Linked DNA regions of Homo sapiens: region 1 is linked to region 2. Evidence: fine-mapped expression QTL. A gene starts in region 2. The other region holds a variant in brackets. All regions are shown on one strand. Distances are between the middles of the regions. Region 1 has its middle 42 kb from the start of LINC02935. Region 2 holds the start of TCF7L2 (transcription factor 7 like 2).

What was found. PIP is the estimated chance that this variant, and not a neighbour inherited with it, causes the effect. A credible set is the group of variants that fine-mapping cannot tell apart.
Region 1: its variant is the best candidate, but not a certain one, in a credible set for the expression of TCF7L2 in esophagus mucosa (GTEx, PIP 0.52).

Annotation. Positions count from the first base shown.
Region 1 is chr10:112,847,864-112,850,772 of GRCh38, reverse strand. It overlaps a transcript of VTI1A not described here. Among named protein-coding and RNA genes, the nearest start is that of LINC02935, 42 kb to the left of the region's middle. The variant T/G (reference allele first, on the strand shown) is at 1,469.
Region 2 is chr10:112,948,446-112,951,354 of GRCh38, reverse strand. TCF7L2 (transcription factor 7 like 2) reads right to left here and starts at 1,108. Exons shown (of 15, transcript NM_001367943.1): 1 at 410-1,108; 2 at 82-148. The coding sequence starts at 598. LOC124902502 (a long non-coding RNA gene) reads left to right here. Exons shown (of 2, transcript XR_007062291.1): 2 at 348-726.

The DNA of each region.
Region 1 (2,909 bases), 100 kb after region 2:
TGTTTTTGAACAAAGGGCCCCACGTTTTTATTTTGCACTTGGCTGCCCAAATTATGTAGCTGGTCTTTTGTGACACTTATATGATTTGGGGGGCCCTCATTTTAAAAACAACACAAAATAAGAGAAATAAAATTAAGTTCCAAGTCTTGGAAGAGGTACCTAGGAACAGAAGGTGCTCTGCAGAAACTTAAGTTTCATTAACTTCACAGAAAATCTGCTTCTGGTTGGGGAAGGAGTGACCTCCACAGTAGTCTTCAAATTGTGGTCTTGGGAGTCTTGGGGGTTTAGTGAATGGGGTGTCAGGTGGACCTCTCTTTGCTCCCCCTCACCCTCTTCTTTACCCTTTACTTTAACCTAATTTCACTTTGTTCTGAATTAGAAATTGAGCTTCAGGCTGTTTCTTTTTTTTTTTTTCCTTTAAAGGTGCCATGACTCACATAGTTCGAAAACCACTAGTTAGACAAACCACATCACACCAGGCTTTTTGTTGTAGGGAATTGTCTTATTTCAGAAGGCCCCAGGTGACCCGCTGACCTGGGGTGTCTCCAAAGCCAGGTAATAATAGGCCGTGCTCTAATCTAAGGAGACTTTGCTGTATTTGCAGAGAGCTTTGAAATGTTCTGGGAAAAACGCTGATCAGATGTGCAAGGTATTATATTCACGGAGAGAAAAACCCTCCCAACTCTTTATAAAATGGATTAAGCTAGTTTCTAAAGGCTGCAGGTTTGTGTGATCTTAATCCCACTCCTTACTCCTGATCCACCACCTTCCTCTTTTGTTTCCAGGATGTGCACCTTCCTGGGTGAGGGCCGGGACGCCTTCCGGGGGAGCCCTACCCCTTCCCAGCTCTCCCCTTAGGAAGAACTAAGGGACACCCTCGCCCTTGCACCCACCTCGCCAGGGCTGCCTTTTTCTGTGGGCACATTTCACATTCACAGGCTCTGATCCGATGGAGGGAAATCTGAACAAAATATGGTAATGATGCCATTGTGCATTCAGCGACTCAGACTGGAGCAGCAGATGGGAAAAGTTGCGGATCACAACCCCATGCAATATTTGACAGAATATCAGTCAAATATAGTTCACCCAGATCCATGTTTCTGTCAGTCCCTCTTGGCTAGAGTTAATTTAAAGTGACAAGAATGACATTAGCTCTTTTCAGAGGGGTAATTCCTTCCTCAGGGCTGCCCCCTCCAATGGATACCCAGGCAGAGCCCTCCATCATCGAAAGGCGGGTTTTCTAAGAAGGGACCAGCCCTAGACCAGGAGTCACCATTCAAGACCTGTGCTGGTCAGTGTGCTGGAGGTTCAGTCTATTTCACTGTGGAGGAAGGAGCGAGGTTGCCCCAGGCTCCAGCTCCCTAGAGGGGTCGTCTCCACAAATGGGGTTTCAGGACTTGTAACCTTACCTCAGGGCTCAGGCAGAGAGAGCCCCACTGCGGGATGAATGCCCATGTGTGAAGACAAT[T/G]TAGAAACATCTCCAGCAGGTGGAGGGCTCTGAGCTGGCACTGCCACCACTTGGAGTCTTAACAGTTGCAGATGAACAGCTTAGCATGTGTTGTTTTCCATTTGTTCTTCCTTGGTTCCTTCTGTCTTGCTACACCATGTACAAAAACTCACATAGTGTTGATAACTTTTGTAACTGGTCGATTCCACCAGCACTTGTGCCTTCTAAGGCTGCTTCCTGCCAAGACCTCAGTGGGTGTCATGACCTCCAAAGTTGGTCATGGGTCCAGAAGCTGGCCTCACCCCACCATCAGATCAATATGTGTGCATGTTGGGAACTGCATGTAGAAAGTTGGCTTTGCTCCTCTGTTTTTAAACCAGGTAGACCCACCCACAAATCATGGCTACCAACCATGAAAGATGACCCCCTACCCTTTATGGCTAGTGAACTCCTATTTGCCCTTCAAAATCCATCTCAATGGTCACCTCCTCCTGGGGGCCTTCCTGAATACCCCCAGAAATTATCATTCCCTTCCTCCTCAGGGCAGTCTCTGGGCTCCGTATGTACTTCTGTTTCTACACTATCAAAAGGCATCATAATCACTTTTTTGCTTCTCTGGCTTCCCTTTCTGGTTGTGGTCATCAAGAATTAACAAGTGTTTGCTGGACTGAATAATTGAATTGTTTCTTGAATAAGGTAATAGGCCAGGAGACCTTATCCACAGAAAACGTATGGTTTCCTGTAACTGCCATGATCTGTGTCTCCAGCCTGTGATATTAAATATGATCACTTCTGTTGTTTCTCATGAGACTCCCCATTTGCTGGAAGTCTCTCTTGAGGTTTCTCTGCTCTCCAAGGTCTGACCAGGGTCATTTGCCAGGGACTGTGTCATCAGGTCATCTGTAACTGACAGCAGGGGTGGGGTTCTGTGTCTGGAATTGCCCTAGTCATCGTTGCCTATCCCTTAATGGGTCCAGCTCAAGGGCTCCTCATCAAAGGAGGAGATTGAAGACCAATGGCATCTCCAGTCTGGGGCCCAGAAATGGCTAGTTAATTAATTACACCTGGCCACACAAAGAACTGGTTGGGCAGGTGATCCCAGCACTGCTGCCAGTTACAGAACTACAAGCAACTGACAAGGAGGGGATTGGGAGAGCTGGCCAAGAAGCTGGGAAGAGCCTGTTGAAACAAAAAGACAAGACCTAAAGTCTCATGATGGCGGTTGTGTCTGGGAATGTTTCAATTAGCTATTGTTGTGTAAAAAACTACCCCCAAATCTTAGTTGCCTAAAACAACAGTTTATTATTTTTTTTCTCATGATTCAGCATTTTGGATTGGGCTTAGCTGGGTGGTTCTTCCGCTCTATCTGGTGTGTGCTTGACTGTCCAAGATGGTTTCTTCTTTACTTATATGCCTGGTGCCTCAGATAGGAGATATGTTTCTTCAGTAACTAGGCACAGTG
Region 2 (2,909 bases):
CGGGCGCGGGGCCGGGGCGCGCGGGGCGGCCGGCCCGGGGGGCGGCTCCGGGCGGCTGCGGGGCGCGCGGGGCGTACTCACCTTCTTCCAAACTTTCCCGGGATTTGTCTCGGAAACTTTCGGAGCGAGGCGGAGGCCGTCTTTCCGCCTTCCCAGAGGGGTGGAGGTGGGGAGGGCGAGGGGCAAACGCCACGCAGAAGGGGGAGAAGGGGGAGAAAAAGAATCGGCGAGGTCGAGGGGGGGGTAGAAAAAAACAGGGTTACAAGTTTTTGCAATGGTGGCACCGTACGCACACGCCGCCCGCCGGGCCCCGCCGCCGCCCCCAGCCCCGATTTCTCCCCTTTCAGCAACATTTGCCAAGCCCAGGAAACAGATAAAAAACCCCACCAGCCCGAGGGGCTTTTCCTACCTCGGAATCGGAGGAGCTGTTTTGATTCGTTTCTGATTCATTGACTAGAGACGATTTGACATCAGCTAAATCCCTCTCTGCCGAGGAGTTTTCGGAGCTCTTCTCCTCCTGTTCGCCCTCGTCTTTGAAGGAAATCAGTTCGTCGTTGGCGCCTAGGTCATCCCCTCCACCGCCGTTCAGCTGCGGCATTTTTTTTTCACCCACCAGCAGCAATTTTGGAAGAAAAATGAAGGAGGAAGAAAAGCCAAAAAAAATCACCCCCAAAAAGTTTTGCCCCCCCAAAAAATATTGCAAGAAAAAGACGAGTCCAAGGTGAACTTTTTTCTGCTTGGGGGTCTTTTTCTCCTGGGGAGGGGAAAAGAGGGAGGAGGGGAGGGGAAGGGGGGGGAGATCTTCTGCACGCGTGAGTTTGGGTTTCTTTTTTCTCTCGTTCCCAAGGATCCGATCAATGTGCAAAAAAATAATAAATAAAAAAGGGGGGTAAAAAAAAAAAAAACACCAACAACAACAAGAAGTCAGATATAAAGAGCAAAGGGGGGGGGAAGCCGAAGATACAGGAGGTGCTCGTGCCGCTCGGATTTGAGTGAGTTGAAGTTAGACTGAGAGCTTTTCAGTTCAAAGGCGGCGCTGATTGACAGATAGAAAAAGGGGGATCGAAATCCGGAGGAACGGAGTAGTCTGGGAGCGGAGATTATTGACAGGGCGAGAGGAACACACTGCCTTAATGAGATGCCGGAGGGCGGGGCCGGCCCAGTGACGTGTGCATAAATAAACAGCCGGGGTGGGCGGGGCGGGGGCGGCTAACAATGATCCTTTCGGGCGCCGGGAGAGGGAGGAGGGAAAGAAGGAGGAAGAGAGGGGCGGGGAAGCCGGGGGGAGACGGAGGGAGGAGTGTGCAGGGGGAGCGGCCTGCGCGGAGTGTGTGCGAGCCCGGGATTCTGGGCGAGGGTGCAGGGACTTGCTCCGGGAGGGGGCGGTTTCAGAAAGACAATGCGGGGTGGGAGAGGAGGAGAAGGGGGTGGCGACCAAGTCAGGAATCCGAGCCGAGGAAGGCGGAAGGAAAGCCCACTTGGGGGGCGGGGATGGGGAGAGGCCCAAAACAGTGCACTTTAGAAATATTAGAAATAAGTCTTAAGGGAGGGGGAAAAGGAAGGGTAGTATTTGAGAAAGTGGTGGCTGGGGGAGGGGGTGGGGGGGTGCTTGGTGGTTAATTCAGCAGTGAAATCAGCCACCCTTAGACGGGATGCGACAAAAGTGGTCAAAAGGAAAGATCAACCCTCCACTTTCAGAGAGCTTGGGGAAGTGAAGGGGCTGGTCAAAGTTCCTGGTCATCTACAATGAAAGAAACTATTAACCCATGAGGCCTCCCTCCTCCCTTTTTTGTTTATTAGTAGTGAATCATTTCATGAAATGTTAAGTCCCACTAGGATGGATATGCCAAAACGACTTTTTATGCAAAAAACAAATGCTAAATGTCAGAAACATTAAAAGTATCCTTAAGGAAAAATATATGATTCTTTTAAATGTAGAGTGGTGTTTTGCTTTTTTTTTTTTTTTTTTAACTGACGTTGGAGGTAGTAGGAAATGAGCTAGAGTCAAAGTCCTTTTTGACTTAGGAGGTGAAAAGTTTGGGCGTTAACACCGTCAGGGAAAATAAAACTGAAAGTTCACCAACCCCTGGGATCAGTTGGGCTACAGTGTTTCTCGAAGGGGGTCTGAAATGAAATCCCCGAAAGACTGACCAAAATAATCAAGATGTAGGTGGCTCTGGCAGGAAATTGCTAACCAAACCGATGCTAGAAGACCTTCGGGAGAAGATGGGAAACCTGGGGCTTGAGGCAGGTATTTGTTGACTTTTAGGTATTAGAGGAGGAGCAGACTGATTTGCTACAAAATGGGGAATGGAATTATGTTAAAGAGGAAAGACCCAGCTCCCAAAACACAATGTTCCTGGGTGATAGAGCAAGAAAATTCATTTTTGCAAATACCCAGTAAGAAGTAGACTGGACACTACAACATGAAAAAGAGAAAAAAGAAAAAAATAAATCAGTAGGATTTAGCAAATTGCCTCTTAGGAGTAGTATTAGTCTAGAGTCCAGGATGTACTGTTGTCCCACCCTTCCCTGAAAAAGCTCACCTGCACTTCAGCTGGCCCATCAGCACCGAGGTTTCCAAAAGAAAGCAAATTTGCCATGTAATATTTAGAGAGTTTGGGGTTTCAGCAAAACTGTTTTATAGGCTAAAGTCTCAGAAAGACTACTAAAAATAATGATACCGAGATTGACAAGGCCAACGAATTCCCCTGCACTGGAAAAAAATCACAACCACATTTGCACACTAAAGAATAAGATGCAGGCAAAATAAAAATGGGTTGGGGGGGAGGCAGAGGAGAATCACTGTAACTCCCAACTTTGATATTAATCAGAATATCAGAAGTAGAGTGAGAAGGAGCCTGAAAAGAAGTAAAACAAATGTGTACATTTAATCAGACAGGATTGCA